4 linked regions of the Homo sapiens genome follow. Changing the gene in region 3 together with the main gene of any one other region gives a genetic interaction. Each region holds a gene or a part of one and is shown on either strand. Other genes may lie near its edges.

Region 1 (3,823 bases), on a different chromosome or scaffold from region 3:
GCCATTTTAATTCCAGGAATGGTTTTCTCCTAGGGAGATAGTGTGGTGAGAAGAGTTTGGATTTTGGAGTCAAACAGATGAGGTGTATAATCTTGGTAACCTCTTAAGCACCAGTTTCCTGATTTGCTAAAGAAAAAGGAAAGGATTAGCTACCTTTAGTGTATTGTGAGGCTTCTATTGGATTATATGTATAAAGATTATATCGTAGTATCTGGCACACAGTAATTCCTCGTTTAAAAACTGAGCATTTAAATCCCAAGTCTAAAGAACGAGGATAGATTTTATAGAAGGAAGTTACCCTTTATTCCCCCCTGTCAGAACTGGAGTTATATATAAGTGCATTCTCTAGGCCATTTTATGGTCTTTATAGAGATTTGCATCTGCTTGCCCTAACTCATTTCAGCAGATTCTCATACTGTCACAGTCCTCAATGCTGATCGGTGTTCACTGATGCAACCTTCTAATAAAAGAAACCTTGTTCTTCACAAGAGGCTATCTCTAGTACCCATTATAAGGTGAATTGCTTCTGGCAAGAGTTCTCTGTAAAGGCTACTGACTACTCAGGGCTGTGTGTGGTCATCAAATCATTTATAATCTTGGGATACATTTTCATATAATCAGTAATGGCTAAAATTTTGCTTTGTATAACAAGTATAACATAGTATGTTTTCATCATAAAAACTAGTGACCCATTCAAGGAAATGAAAGTGGATCAGAGCTCTCATTATTAATCCATGAATTTTGTCTTACAGCTTTCCTCAAATGAAAGAGATAGCAGTGAACCAGGGAATTTCATTCCTCTTTTTACACCCCAGTCACCTGTGACAGCCACTTTGTCTGATGAGGATGATGGCTTCGTGGACCTTCTCGATGGAGAGAATCTGAAGGTACCGTGTGTGTGTGTGTGTGTTCCTATTTGTTCTACTAATTAATTACCTCTGGAGAAGGCATGTGATGTGAAAAAGAACAGCAACAGCAGTTCCCCGGGGCTTGCTTAGCTGATATTTTTGTTCATTTGGTGATAATTCATTTAATAATAGGGCTACCAGCCTTATTAAATCCTTTGGATTGGGGGATGGGGGCATCAAAAGAAGACACATGATCCTTCTTACCCTGAAGGAGCTAACTAACAATCTATATGCAAGAAACATGAAATCAGAACGGTATAGGATGGTACATTAAGGATACTTCCTATCCAGGCCTATCTGGTATTGTTCAGGGAGAAACACACCTAAAGCACTTAAACAAATGTTAGTCTCTACAGGCTCTTTTTAAAATCAGTTTTTCTGTTTCTTTAGAATGAGGAGGAGACCCCCTCGTGCATGGCAAGCCTCTGGACAGCTCCTCTCGTCATGAGAACTACAAACCTTGTGAGTTGTTCTAGTGTGTCTGGAGGAAGCCCTGCGTGATTGGGGCACTGGACAGAGTAGTCCTTAGTTGAGTATAGCCAAAGATTGAAATGCATGATAGGATTTGGGGATCTGGGTTTTAGGCCTCACTTTGGCTACCTACAAATTATGACCTTTAGTCATGATATCTCTCTGCATGTCTCCTGATGTATAAGGAGTGTGGGTTAGGAGGGACCATGGTCATTCCTAGCTTTTACCATCTAGTCAGTTTGAAAAAAGCCTATCTGAAGCCTTTAGCCTGAATACTTTACTTTTTTTAGGTTATTCTCATTTATATTCCACAGAACCTAGCATAAAATTAGACAAGCAACAGTAACTCACAGGATTTTTTTTGTTTCTGTGTTTTTTGTTTTTTTTTTTGAGACGGAGTCTCGCTCTTGTTGCCCATTCTAGAGTGCAGTGGCACAATCTTGGCTCACTGCAACCTCTGCCTCCCAGGTTCAAGTGATTCTCCTGCCTCAGCCTCCCGAGTAGCTGGGATTACAGGTGCCTGCCACCACACCCAGCTAATCTTTGTATTTTCAGTAGAGACGGGGTTACATTATGTTGGCCAGGCTAGTCTCGATCTCCTGACCTCAGGTGATCTGCCCACCTCGACCTCCCAAAGTGCTGGGATTACAGGCATGAGCCACTGTGCCTGGCTGGATGTTTTTTGTTGCTGTTTTGTTTGTTTGTTTTGTTTTGTTTTGTTTTTCATTGAAAATACCTACCTGAGGCTGGGTATTTTCAGGTAGATATTTTCGATTTTAAAAATTATATATAATATATATTTTATATATATATATATATATATATATATACTCACACACACACATACACAGTATAGATTTGTGTTTCCATCAGGGATACTTTCAAACAGAAAGCATAGTATATGTAGATACAGAATCTATAGTGTATGTGTGTATATATATTCAAAATCACATATATATACACACACATACACATGCTATAGATTCGTGTTTTCATCATAGGGATACTTTCAAAGTTAGAAGCAAGAATGTGCCTATACAGATATATACACCTGTATGTTCAGAGATATACACCCTTAGGTACACATCTAAATTGATAAGTTCATATTTTTTAATTCTCAATAACCTGAACTATAATTACAGAACAAATGAGCTACAGTTTTTTTGTTTGTTTGTTTTGTTTTGTTTTTGAGACAGAGTCTCCCTCTGTTGCCCAGGCTGGGGTGCAGTGCAGTGGTGTAGTCTTGACTTGCTGCAACCTCTGCCTCCTGGGTTCAAGTGCTTCTTCTGGCTCAGCCTTCTGAGTAGCTGGGACTACAGGCTTACGCCACCACTCCCGGCTAATTTTTTTGGTATTTTTAGTAGAGACGAGGTTTCACTATGTTGGCCAGGCTGGTCTCGAACTCTTGACCTCAGGTGATCCATCCACCTGCCTCCCAAAGTGCTGGGATTACAGGCATGAGCCACCGTGCCCAGCCAAGCTACAGTTTTGAGATCACTTATGGATTATAGTACATTCATGTGCATAGCTTTTGAGAAAATATGTTAACGCAGTACAAATGTTATGAGTAAATTTACCAGGTCATTTTGATAGGCATAAAATTACATAAAATGTGAGAACACTTTGGAAGTGGCTGTTAGTTTTATAGATTTGATTTTAGAGTCATAAGCATGGGCTTGTAAGCTCTTAATAGTGGGGAAATGTCTTCCACAAATGGTTATTACAAACTAACCATTGCTGGGAGCTGTAATGGAAAATAAACTTCACACAAAAGAGGAAGAAAATCCCCGGTCTCTATGGGAGCAGATGTGGGAGTGATCCATTCTACTGGGGACTATCAGGAAGATTTCAAAGAAGTGACATTGAAATGTTAGCATCAACTTGAAAATGAATGGTTTACTGAGATGTGAAAGGACATTCTGTGCAGAAGGAAAAGCCAGGCCAAGACACATGGAGTCGAGAATAGGCTGAGATGCGTTTAGAGAGCTGACTCTTGCTACCACTGGTCAGATTGGCTTCCCTTGGGCTCTGGAAAATTTGTCTTTATTTATTTATTTATTTATTGAGACAGAGTCTTGCTCTGTCACCCAGGCTGGAGTGCAGTGGTGCAAATCTTAGCTCACTGCAACCACCACCTCCTGGTTTCAAGTGATTCTCGTGCCTCAGCCTCCTGGGTAGCTGGGATTAAAGGCACGCACCACCACACCTGGCTAATTTTTTTGTATTTTTAATAGAGATGGGGTTTCTTCATGTTGGCCAGGCTGTTATTGAACTTGTGACCTCAAGTGATCCCACAGTGTTGGGATTACAGGCGTGAGCCACCGCGCCCAGCCTGGGAAATTAGTCTTTAAAAGACCAAGTAGAAAAAAAGACTTTGAACACAATTTTGAAAGGCATTTGCTACTCTGCCCATCCCCACTCCCTCCAAATTTACCATCTTAACT
Region 2 (3,823 bases), on a different chromosome or scaffold from region 3:
GTGCCTGGGTTTGCTTCATCCACAGCCTGAGTGACTCTTAAGTTTCTAACTTCTTGACCATTAGTGACTACTTGCTATGGGAAAAGCACTTCAGACTTCACAAGATGAAACTATCCTAGGGCTTGTCATTTTGTTCAGTCCTCAACTTTCTACTCCATAGCCTATTTCTATGCAAACATCAGCATGTGGAGCTAGATGCTGGGAATCACAGAAGATTACATCTATTCCCCACTGGAACTCCTGTGAACCACCAGGGCCTCTGTCTCTGGCTCATATGAGTTTTACTGGTCCACTACAGGGAGGCCAAGAGTCAGGGAGGGCTTGTAACAGAAGGGTTGAGATGGGGCAAGAACAGGTGGCCTGTCCTTGACAGTTTGGTAGATATAAGAAGCTAGAGCAGGCCAGGCCCTACTGGCTTGTCCAATTCCTAGTTTTACACTGGGCTAGGAGATCTGCATCCCTTATTGCACACCAACCCCATCTCCACCGTTTGAAACTGCTCTCAGGATCACCCACTCCTGCTCTCCTAAAGTACTTTAAAGGCACCTGGTGGGGTGGAGAGACAGGGGAACTCACCAGAAGGTCCCTGGAGGCCAGGGGGTCCTTGAGGACCAGGAGGACCTGGAGGACCAGGTGGTCCCATAACAGTTGTTCCTGGAATTCCAGGAATCCCTGGAATTCCTGGGGGTCCCTGGGGTCCTGGAGGTCCTGGGGGTCCTGGAGGGCCATTGGGTCCAGGAGGTCCTGCTTTCTTTCCTGAAAAATAGGATTCAGTGTTACTTTTTTTTTTGAGACGGAGTCCTGCTCTGTTGCCCAGGCTGGAGTTCAGTGGCACGATCTCGGCTCACTGCAACCTCCACCTCCCGGGTTCAAGCGATTCTCCTGCCTCAGCCTCTGGAGTAACTGGGATTACAGGCGCGTGCCACCGCGACCTGCTAATTTTTGTATTTTTAGTAGAGACGGGGTTTCACCATGTCGGCCAGGTTGGTCTCAAACTCCTGACTTCGGGTGATCTGCCTGCCTCAGCCTCCCAAAATGCTGGGATTACAGGCGTGAGCCACCGCGCCTGGCCTCAGTGTTACATTTGTAGTTATTTCCTGTGATGAGTGTACTGTCAGGAGTTCTACAGACTTCTGAGGACACAAAGTCAGCTCTCTGGGAGGCCCTGCTAAAGAGTTGGATACCTTTATCACACATCTCTGTCTCCCTGTCTCCGTCTGTCTTATGCTTTCTCTCCCCTCCCCCCACTCCCTTTTGTGAATATGCATTTACAAAGCTAGGTTTGAGCATATAGAAATAAGTGGCCCTCCAGGAGATCAGTCTGTGTCTGTGGGGAAACAGACACAGTCATGGGATAGTAGAAGTGCTACCTTAGTGGGTAGGGACCAAATGCTGAAGAGGTCAGAGAAGGTTTCAAAAAGGAGGTTACATTTCAGCTGAGTCCAAAGGATGAGAATTTCTCTACCAAGTGATTAGACCTATGGGTCACTTTGTGGTTCTTTTTAGAAAGGGCTATTGTTGAAGAATGTGGAGCTTTTATGTTTACTGCCCAGTTTGGTGGACTTGATGTCGATAACAAGAGGAAGCCGTACAGCCTGGCCTTAGGAACAGTATCAGCTCCAGGAAGGTTCCTCCAGGAGTCAGGATGTACAGGAAATGGGGGTTGGGATGGGGACAGTGCTAGTCGGGAATGAGGAATGGGAAGGAGTTTTGGAGATGGGGGAATGGAGAAGGAGGAAGAGGGGCACGGAAAGAGGAGGAGGGAGAGAGAGAGATATTGAGAAACAGGAAAGAAGCAGAGACAGAGAGTAGAGGGAGCTGAGGAGGAGGCAGCAAGTTTCACTCTCTCAGCTGACCTCTGTAAACTCTATTTTAAAAGATCTCTGGGAAAGGAAATTCTGCAAACTCCATAGTAACATGTTCCAATGTTTATTGCCCCTCACTGCTCACTGTTAGGAAGTTCTCTGGTATATTAAATGATGTCCCTCTTGTGGCAGTTTAAGCTCTTATTCTATTTGTGTAGACAGAGAAGAATATACATATACATAATAATCCTTATATATGAAAAGAAATTAAGTTACCCACCAACCCCTATTTCTATAGGCTAAATAATCCAGCTTCCCAAAGTCTTTCCTCAGAAGTCCCATTCTCAAATGTATTATTAATCATGCCCACCAACTCTTCCCCCTTTCCTCCTTGCTATCCTTCTAGAACAATCTCGACCCTCCTATTTCATATTCCAGTCCTTTCAACATTCCCACCAGGATGTAGTTATCTTAAATGAGTCATAACTGTGGTCTTGAACCAAAACCTCCAGCTCTTCCTGTTGACTTCCTCTGCTCTGTGCAGCTCCACTCAAAGACTACATGTAGGCACAGGTCTTCTTCCTTCCTTCACCACCTTCTCACAATTTTATGGAAAGTTTCAGGAATGGAAGCCTGTTTCCAGACTTCATCACAATGTCTTCACCTGAGGTAGTTTCTTAGTTTTAAATACAACCTTCTCTAGTCTCACTAAAAACCTTCTTACTGACTCTGACTTCTTGCTCCCCAGACACTTAGGCAGGAGAATCTTGTCCTGATTTATCAGGTCCTCCCTTAAGAACAATGCCTCATGGCCAAGAAACCCAATCCTCATGGCAATGCCACTCAAGAGGCCATTTGTCTATGTCTAACCACATCTGCATTTGGAATGAAACCATGGGGTCATCGTGGGGTCTCTTCCTCAGAAAGGAAGGAAAGGAAGGTCCAGAGAACATCTCTCCCAGAAGAGTCCCTGTAGCCTTAAAGACCTAGAGGCATGAGCTTTAGAGGTTTCTCTGCACTTAGCAGCAAAAGATTGGATCTGCCCCGTTTCTAGATCTAGCCAATTTCAAGATGCTGAACAGGAAAACCATCTCCTTTCAGATTTGGGCAGCTTCCAAATCAGGCTTATTCAGAGCCCAAGTTTCAATTCCAGCTAGTGTAGTGGAAAGAACACAAAATCTGTACTCAGGAGATAAGGATGTAAGCCCCAGCTCTGCCACAGACACACTTTGGGCAAATCCCTTCCTCTCCTTGAGCCTTAGTTTCTACATCTGTGAAACAAGGAGCTTGGCCTCAATGATTTCTCTGTTTCCTCATGAGACTGAGTTTCTATAAGGAGGGGTGGCTTACCCCTTGCAGTCAGGAAGCTTTCTTAGCCTGGTTGTAAGGTTTGCTTCTCCCTCCTTATTTTCTAGGTGGCACAGACACAGAAGTTGGTGCATATTAGGCTGTCCTGTGTTCCAAGATTTCCAAGCCTAACAGTGATTTTCAAGCTAGAGGGTGTTCTGTGGGTAGCACAAACTTCACCTTCAAGAATGTGAGTCTCCTGTAATTGCTAATGTAATTTTGGAAGAATTAGAGCCAGAAACTCCTCCAGTCCAAGAGACTAATGGTTGCAGTGAAAACAGAGAATGTTCACTTATGAAAATGTTAGAAGGCATTTGAGAAAAAAAAAAACTCCTGCTTTGTTCCAGTTCTGCAGCTGGTCCTCTGCTTCTCTGCAACAAGGGTTAGGCAAGTGAGCTTCTCACACTTGCATACTTACACAAAGTTGGGCCCAGAGAAGAGAATGTACAAAATGACCCCTGGAGCAAGAGGATAACTTCAGAGGATTGACTCCCTTCTCTCGATTTCCTTACTTTAACAGAACACCTCATGATATAAAAGCCCAGAGACGTTTGTACTTAGAAACATACCCTATGTAGTGTTAGATGAAAGAATATACACATTCCTTTCAAAGCTAAACTTCATCAAAGGAGTATTTCCTTAACCTTTTAGCTAAGCCCAAAATCAAAGAA
Region 3 (4,747 bases):
TTTTACCCCTTAATTTGAGAAGTCAAATTCAATGCAAACAATTGATTTCATGCCACAGTGAGGCTGAGAATTTAAGCATGGAAAACTTTAAGCATAGAGTTTTTCTGGGAGCAATTAACGAAGTGTTGGCGGGGGGGTTGGGAGCTGGTACAAGGAGGCAGAAAAATACGGAGACTATGTTCTTCAGACACTGAGCATCATATCTTGATGTTGGGGGCCTCCTATGAGCTTGACACTCAGAGAGGTAAAGTGACTTGCCTCAGGTCACACAGCTGGCGATTGGAATCCAAGACACCAGCCCCCAAACCAGTGTTTTCCCTGCTGTGTAGGCTTTTGTGACCTAAACGTGGACTTCCCTCAGGCCCTCAGGATCACCTGGTAGGGATAAAGTTAACTGCTTTTGAAATTGCTCCACAGGAAATATGAATGTCTTAATAACATCAATGCTGGTTCAGCCCAAAGTTGGAAAACCATTTATGATCTTGCGACCCTGCAAAGTATATAATTTTAACCCATATTGCAGATGAGAAAACTGAGGCTTCGAAAGGGAAGGTGACTTGTCCAGGGTCGCATGGCAGTGCTGGGAATGAACCTTCAGTCTACTGCCCCTAACTGCCCTCTGAAAGTGAGGACATCTCCAGAAGAAAAAAAACAAATCTAACATACCACAAAGCCCAGCTCCAGCCTGCCAAGGACGACGACATGGTGCTGGGAAGCCAAGTCAGCATTCCTGTGGCCACATGGAGATTTCTGAGTGCTGGTTCTCAGCCCAGCTTGCTCACTCTCCCAGCAATGTTCTCTCAGAGCTCTGGGTTTTGTATTAAAAAGCCAAGTCAGACTGATTTCAAGGTGAGAACTCGGGCTCTGCTACTGGATCCTACTCCCTGGATTAAAAGGCCTCATATGCCCAGAGATGGGTACAGCATGGAGATTGCTAGATTTGGAATTCTAGATACGCAGGCTCCAGCCCCAGCTCCTCAGGTAGCATCTGTGTGCCTCTGGGCAACTCACTTCCCCTTTCCAAGATCATATCCAGCTTGCAGGGAATGTTGGGTATGTAAGTCATGGGACAGAACAGGGCTGAGTTTGGTCCTGAGCTAGGACACGGTGAGGCACAAGAACAGGCAGAGGGCAGGAAGCGCTGCAGAGATGATGGCTCCAGGGCTGATCTCATCATGGAGCTCTGCGCTCCCAGCCCAGGCTGTGTTTAGGATGGCGACAGAAGGTGGCATCTGAGTGTGAGCAAAGAGGGCACCATGCCACCCCACATGTGTAGCCCAACAGGATGGGAAGGGCCTGGGCAGAAGTGGGTAACAGGTTCAGAGGCAGGGTAGGCACATAACCCAACTTCCAGTCTCCGCATTGCATTTTCTGCTGAGAAGAGAGCTGAGGATAGCCAGGATTTTCTTAAGCACAGGTACCAGCTTAAACCCTTCGCAAGCATTCATCATATCTAGACCTCACCACTGGTAGGCACTATTGATCTCCACAGCTTATGGGAGGAGGCCGAGGCACAGAGAGGGAACAGAACTGATCCCAGGTCCCACAGCAAGGCTGCCTTTGCTAAAGTGAGGGCCAAAGGTTGGCCAATCCATTTTACAGGTGATTGCGTCTTAATCTCCTTCCTTATGAATAGCTTGATTTCAAGTCTACACTGTGAATTCTGACAGTTTCAAAGCCTGAAAGAATTTTGTTATGCAAACATCCAATCCAGAAGAGGGCTTTTGGCTGATTTACTGTGGCATTCCCGGCACCTAGAACAGAGCTTGGCACACGGCGGATGCTTAAGTATTTGCTGAATGAAGATAGCATCTTGTTCTGGCCTCAGTTCAGTTTTATTCCTCACAATAGTCCCGAAAGGGGAATACACCCCTTTTTACAAATGGGCACATGGACCGGGATCATCACTCAGCCTAGTCTTCACCAGTTGGGATGTTGAGAAGCTGTGTCCAGGGGCCTCTTCTGAGGGAATTCACAGGTATTCAGTTAAAGAAAGAAAAAGGTGACACAGGAACAAGATGCATGGGGCCAGGGAGTGGGATGGCTGGGGCAGGACAGCGTGGGGACACCCACAGGTGGGGAGGACTAAACAGTTGGAAAGAGCAAGACTGGAGAGTGGAGGAAGAGCGGGCTGAGCCCAGGAGGAGCCGGAAGACAAAACCAAGGCTCAGCCCCCTATCTCTTAGGCAACACAGTGGGAGCAGGACGCTAGGGCTGCAGAGTTTGGAGTCTGGATTCAAACCCTGGTCCCACCACTTACTTAAATTGTCTAAGCCTCAGTTTCCCCATTTGTAAAATGAAATGATGTACATGAGATGTCAGAGCAGGTCCCTCTACGCACGGTAGGCCTTCAAAAAACAGTTGCAGTATCTACACTGAGGCTGGGACCCAACCCCTGCCTCCCTGGGCAGCTGGGCCCACCTGAGCGGTCTGACTTTTTCCCAGGGCCCAAAGCCCTTCCTGGCCCAAGAATCGCCCCCTCTTTTGATCTCAAGGAATTTCACCCTCCACCCAGAGGCCTTTGTAAAGGCCCCGCCTTCGACCCCATTATGTGTTGAAAAAGAGTCATAAGGCACAATGGGGAGTGGGGGAGGCTTTCCTCGGCCTCCTGCCTTTCTGCTGAGACCTGCGTTTAACCCTTTCTTACCAAGACTGGGCAGGGAAGCAGCCCTGGGAGGCCCACCTCGCAAAGCCTAAAGGGGGCGGCAGGCTCCTTCGGCTTCGCGGGCTCCAGAGCTTTGCCCCACAGCTGCGGTGCCCACAGTGGGTGCCCACACTTTGACACCCACGCGGGTGTCCTCTGTCTCCTCCCGCCACGCCCCCCATTCCAAGCGCCTCCTGCCCTCTCCTCCTCCCAAACCAAACTGCTTTAGACCCCACCGGGTCAGGTGGGACGCCTGGGAGGGCGCCAGGCCACGAGGCCTTGGGGTTGGCAGCCCAGGTCTCTAGAGCTACGGCTAAGGAGGCACCAGGAGGGGCTCAGTCACGGGGCACCAAGGGCAGGTGCCCAGACAGAGCGCAGGGTCCCAGGCAGCGGCTCGGGAGGTAGGAGACCCTGGGACTGCAGGGCGGTCCCGAGCGCGGTCCCCTGAGTTCGCCGGCTCCGCGGGCGCCACGTCCAATCTCCTGTCCCGCCCAGAGCGCGCGCCGGGAGCTTGGGATGCGCGGGAGGACAGGGGCAGGACCAATTGCAGGGCGTCCCGAATGGGCTGCTGTGGGCGGCGTGGCGCTGGAGACCCCGGCCCTGCCATTAAAGTTCAACCACGGGGCCAGCGGAGGATGCAGAAGGGGATGGACCACGTCCGCTGGGGCCCTGGGGAACCAGGGCGCGGGGCAGCGTCGAATCCTTACCTGCGCAGAGCACTGGCGAGGGTCCGTCCAGGCACAAGCGCGTGGGAGCACGGAGCCAGGATAGCGGGCGCGGAGTGGCGGGAGCGCAACGCGGCCCGGGCCACCACCCCCGCCGCCTTATAAAGGCGGCCGCGGGGCCCGAGTGAGGCCCGGGCAGCCCGCCCCCTCCCCCGCCCCCGGCCCCAACCCCTCCCCAGCCCGGCCCCGGCCCCGCCCCCGGCCCGAGCCCCGCGCCCCGCGGGCCGGTCGTGCCACGAGGCCAGGGCGCCCCCTGCCGGGAGCGGAGCTAGGAACGGGCTGGGGTGACGCGGCCCTGGCGTCCCTCGCCCGCCCCGCACTCTCGGTCTCTCTGCCTCCGGGCTGCCCCAGCCCAGCCCTTCCTCTCTCAGCGAGCCTGGGCTCTGACCTGCTCCTTGCGCGCGTCTCCTGTTTTGTCTTTACCGTCGGCATCTTCCTTCTGCGTCTCTTGGTGGGAGTCTTTGTCTCCACCCGTCTCTTTGTCTGCCTTCCTCTCTGGCGTCTGTCTCTGTGTCTGTCAACATATCTGGCTTTCTCTGGGTCTCTGTCTTTATCCGTCTCTGCCCACGTGTCCCTGTCTCTCTGTCTCTGTCCACGTGCACCTCTGACTCTGCACCCCCACCCCCGCTTCCCTGCCCGTGGGCTGCCTCCCTGGCTACCGCAAGAAGAAGCAGAAGGGGACCTCGGAGGGGTGGCATCTGGAGGGAAACCACCCCCTAGACAGGGGCCCTTCCCTCTTTCTCTCTTTAGAGACGTAAAGGGCCCGCAGGTGTCCGGCTATGTCCCAGCCAGAGCCCCAGGACATGCTCCCTGGATGCCAGAGGAGGGGCAGGCACTTCCCAGGCAGTTGAGTCAGACAGCTCAAGTTCAAAACTCTGCTCTGGTGACCTTGGCCAAGTCACTTGACCTATGTGGACCAGCCTGCCCCTCTTTAACAGGCAGACACCATCTCCCCTGGCCTCTCGCTGGTGCGAGAGTCATATGAGACAGTGCTTGAAAACTACAGAGGAAACGCTAAAATCCCGGATAGACGGGAGCCAGGGACAGAGGCTGGGTGCTACAGGCCCTGCTCCCGCTCCTGGGGAACCAGCTCTGATGGAATAACCACTCCCTTTCCTCTGAGCACTGAATTCTCTGGGCAACTTCGCAGTGAGAAGTCCGCAGGCTCTGTTTGAATGCCTCCAGCGACAGAGCTCACTGACTCCTAACAGGAGGGTCTTCTCAGTGGCCCTTGGGAAAATGTCTGCCCAGAGAACCAATTTTAGCCAGGTCAGGCAACCTCTCTTCCACTCACTCCATGCCAGTCTCAGGGCCAGGCACTGTGCATGCATTAACTTCCAAAAGCTCCATTTTCCAGAGGAGAAAACTGAGGCCCAGA
Region 4 (2,761 bases), about 190 Mb from region 3:
CCCCCAGTGATCCCGCAGGATAGGAGGAAGAGACTTGGGCCAGGAGTCAGGAAACCTGGGTCCGGTCTGCCCCAACCAGTCACCAGCTGCGTGACCTTGAGCAGACTGCCCTCCGCCTCTGGGCCTCAGTTTCTCTTCTGCAAAATGAGAAGATGATACCAGATGGTCTTTAAGGTCCCATTAGAGACCCAGGGAATAAAAGGATTCTAAGAAACAGCACTGAGTTTGGACAGGAACACAGAATCCTCTGCTCACAACCTGGTCAGCCAAGTGGCCTGGTCGCTGTTCTTGTCATGAAGACACCCCTGGGATGAGAGAGGCAGAATCAAGCTCTCCCCTACCAGCACCACGCCTCACACCTGGGCACTCCCCGCAAGCCGCCCACCCCACCTGGAGCCCCTCTCACCCAGTGGTGCCCCTCACCTTGACATCCTCCCACCGCTCCTTGTCCTCCTTCAGGACCCGGCTGGTGTGCAGTGGGGTTTGAGGGACCTTTGTTGATTGCTGAGAAGAGAGAAAAGGGGTCCGAGTGAAAGCCTGGGGTAGGGTCCTGGCTAAGACTCTGTCCTGTGGAATAGTCCCGTGAGACCCAAGGCTCCCCAGCCTGCCGAGCTTACCATGATCCAAGGGTGGTTCATAAACTCGGTGATGGTCATTCTCTGGGTGGGCTCTGTTTTCAGCAGATTCCGAATGAGCATCTTCACTGTGGGGTGGGACAGGGGGCAGTGACAGCTCAGGGGTCACTCTCCCTGGCCTGCTCCTTTCCCCAGTTTTCATGGGGAAACCAGGTTCAAAGAGGGGGTGCATGGAGGCAGGCTGCCGGAGCAACTGGCCCCAAGGACCATTACGGCTGTACCACTTGAGAGGCCCTGCACAGCCCCACAGCCTTGGCCCTGCCTCCAGCCCTCCACACAGGCAAAATGAAGCAGGACGCACCCCGCAGGCGTGGGCATAGGTGCTAACCCACAGTTACACCACGCACATGAGATGGAGGCCCATACATGTGTCTGCGTGTACACACATACACACACACACACACACACGGGCTCTTCCCCTTGTCCTGAAAGCCTGGGTTCTTACCTTCCTCTGATACTTCTGACCATTCTGGGTTGGGAAATTCATACTGGCCCATTCGGATGCGAGTCTTCATGCCCGGAGAGATGGCAAGGCCGTGGTTGGAGTAGAAGGGGGGATACCCACACAGCCTGCATCAACAGGAGGAAGGAAGTGGGAGACAGAACAGCTGTCACTTAGTGGCCCTGTACCAGGAACAGGATGAGAAACAGGCTCTTCTCCTTGTAAAGGTCACAGAGAAATCAGGGCTTATTGACACAGGCACAATATACAAAGTCAAGCCCGGGGCCCGGGAATCCAGCATAGCAAGTATCTAAGGCGCACACTTTCCAGCCCATGAGCTGGTTTACACCCGCCACTTAGCTATCGGAACTGAGAGAAGGGGCACGCAGGGGACTCCCCTGTACAAAGGGGAATGCTAACGTCTGCCTCTTCCTCTTGTCCTGGAGAAGTACAGGCCGCCCTGACTCCCTGCCCCACCCAGCCCCCTCCCCAGCACACTCACAGGATGTACATGATGACACCCAGGGACCACATGTCACAGGACTTGTCATACTTCTCTGGACCCAGCACTTCTGGAGCTGCAAATCAAAGGTCAACATGGGTGGGCCGGCCCTCAGAACCCTGTGATCCACTCAGTTTCTCTGTGAAAGATGCTCCCCATCCCAACCTTTCAGCCTATCATGAGGTGGCAGCAGTTGGGGCACAGAAGGAAGAGCCAAAGCCCAGCCCAGGGACTGGAACAGAACATCCTCCTCCATGAGGAACCTGGAACTAGGAGCTTAAGATTCTAAAAATCCTGAACTGCATGAGACTTTCAGGCCCATGCCGTTCATTTAATTTCACAGATGCTCTGAACATGCTTTGAAAGCTTCTTCCATGCCAATCAGCTGTGGCTCCAGAACAAGACCTGGGTCCAGACTCCATGGAGAATCTGATGGAAACCATGGCTCTTCTCAGAAAGATCCCAGCAGATCCTTTCCTACAATTTCTCAACTGTAGCTTCGCTCTGACAAGCCCTACTTCTCAGCAGGTCCCAGCAGAACCAGCACCAGAAGGGGCCATACAGACACAACTCTCCTAGGATTTGCGGCCCCCCAGATAGCCAAGAGGAGGGGCTGAGAAAAGTTCTGGGAAAAGCCTAGGTCCCTGGGCCCCCTGTGGACTTACCCACATAGTACGGTGTATAACAAGGAGTGGTCAAAGAGTTGTGGCTGGTGGTTTCCTTGGCAAAGCCAAAGTCAGTGAGTTTCAGGATGGCGTTGGGCCTTTTGGAGGTGTATAAGAGATTCTCAGGCTACAGAAAGAGAGACAGAAAAATAGCAACCCTGCTGGACCTGGGAGGGGCTATCAGAAACGAAAAGGATCCTGGTTCCTCCCTTCCTCTACTCATCCAGCAACCATTTGCCTATCCTGGGCACTGCCCACCACGAGGAGTGGCAGCTCTCTATGGGCAGGTGCCTGCCTCTGCAGGGTTTCCAGAGTGCCTGGAGATAACAGACTGACACACAGAACCCGCAGTAAACACCACAGGAACAGAGAAACCAAGAGTGTGACTGAGGGGTTCTGCCTGAGGAGAACCACAGGGCTGAGTGGGGCCAGAGAATGCTTCACTACTGGGTTTAGGGGTTTGCCCATGGGCAGAGAGGGCAAGGCCCTACAAGGCAGAGAATGGCATGCTCAGGAA

What was found. A genetic interaction does not mean that the proteins touch.
Region 1: changes in ALPL (region 3) and CDC25A together harm fitness more than expected from each alone (negative genetic interaction), as found in Homo sapiens cells (one large-scale study listed by BioGRID).
Region 2: changes in ALPL (region 3) and EDA together harm fitness less than expected from each alone (positive genetic interaction), as found in Homo sapiens cells (one large-scale study listed by BioGRID).
Region 4: changes in ALPL (region 3) and MAPKAPK2 together harm fitness more than expected from each alone (negative genetic interaction), as found in Homo sapiens cells (one large-scale study listed by BioGRID).

The regions. Positions count from the first base shown.
Region 1 is NC_000003.12:48,174,918-48,178,740, reverse strand, and holds part of CDC25A (M-phase inducer phosphatase 1), read left to right. Parts: intron 1-752; coding exon 753-887; intron 888-1,298; coding exon 1,299-1,370; intron 1,371-3,823. UniProt on the Homo sapiens protein: Tyrosine protein phosphatase which functions as a dosage-dependent inducer of mitotic progression. Directly dephosphorylates CDK1 and stimulates its kinase activity. Also dephosphorylates CDK2 in complex with cyclin-E, in vitro.
Region 2 is NC_000023.11:70,024,790-70,028,612, reverse strand, and holds part of EDA (ectodysplasin-A), read right to left. Parts: intron 757-3,823; coding exon 577-756; intron 1-576. UniProt on the Homo sapiens protein: Cytokine which is involved in epithelial-mesenchymal signaling during morphogenesis of ectodermal organs. Functions as a ligand activating the DEATH-domain containing receptors EDAR and EDA2R. May also play a role in cell adhesion.
Region 3 is NC_000001.11:21,508,122-21,512,868, reverse strand, and holds the start of ALPL (alkaline phosphatase, tissue-nonspecific isozyme isoform 1 preproprotein), read right to left. Parts: upstream 3,447-4,747; 5' UTR 3,352-3,446; intron 1-3,351. UniProt on the Homo sapiens protein: Alkaline phosphatase that metabolizes various phosphate compounds and plays a key role in skeletal mineralization and adaptive thermogenesis.
Region 4 is NC_000001.11:206,729,582-206,732,342, reverse strand, and holds part of MAPKAPK2 (MAP kinase-activated protein kinase 2), read right to left. Parts: intron 2,372-2,761; coding exon 2,245-2,371; intron 1,656-2,244; coding exon 1,580-1,655; intron 1,206-1,579; coding exon 1,081-1,205; intron 704-1,080; coding exon 618-703; intron 505-617; coding exon 424-504; intron 306-423; coding exon of another isoform or gene 252-305; exon of another isoform or gene 1-251. UniProt on the Homo sapiens protein: Stress-activated serine/threonine-protein kinase involved in cytokine production, endocytosis, reorganization of the cytoskeleton, cell migration, cell cycle control, chromatin remodeling, DNA damage response and transcriptional regulation.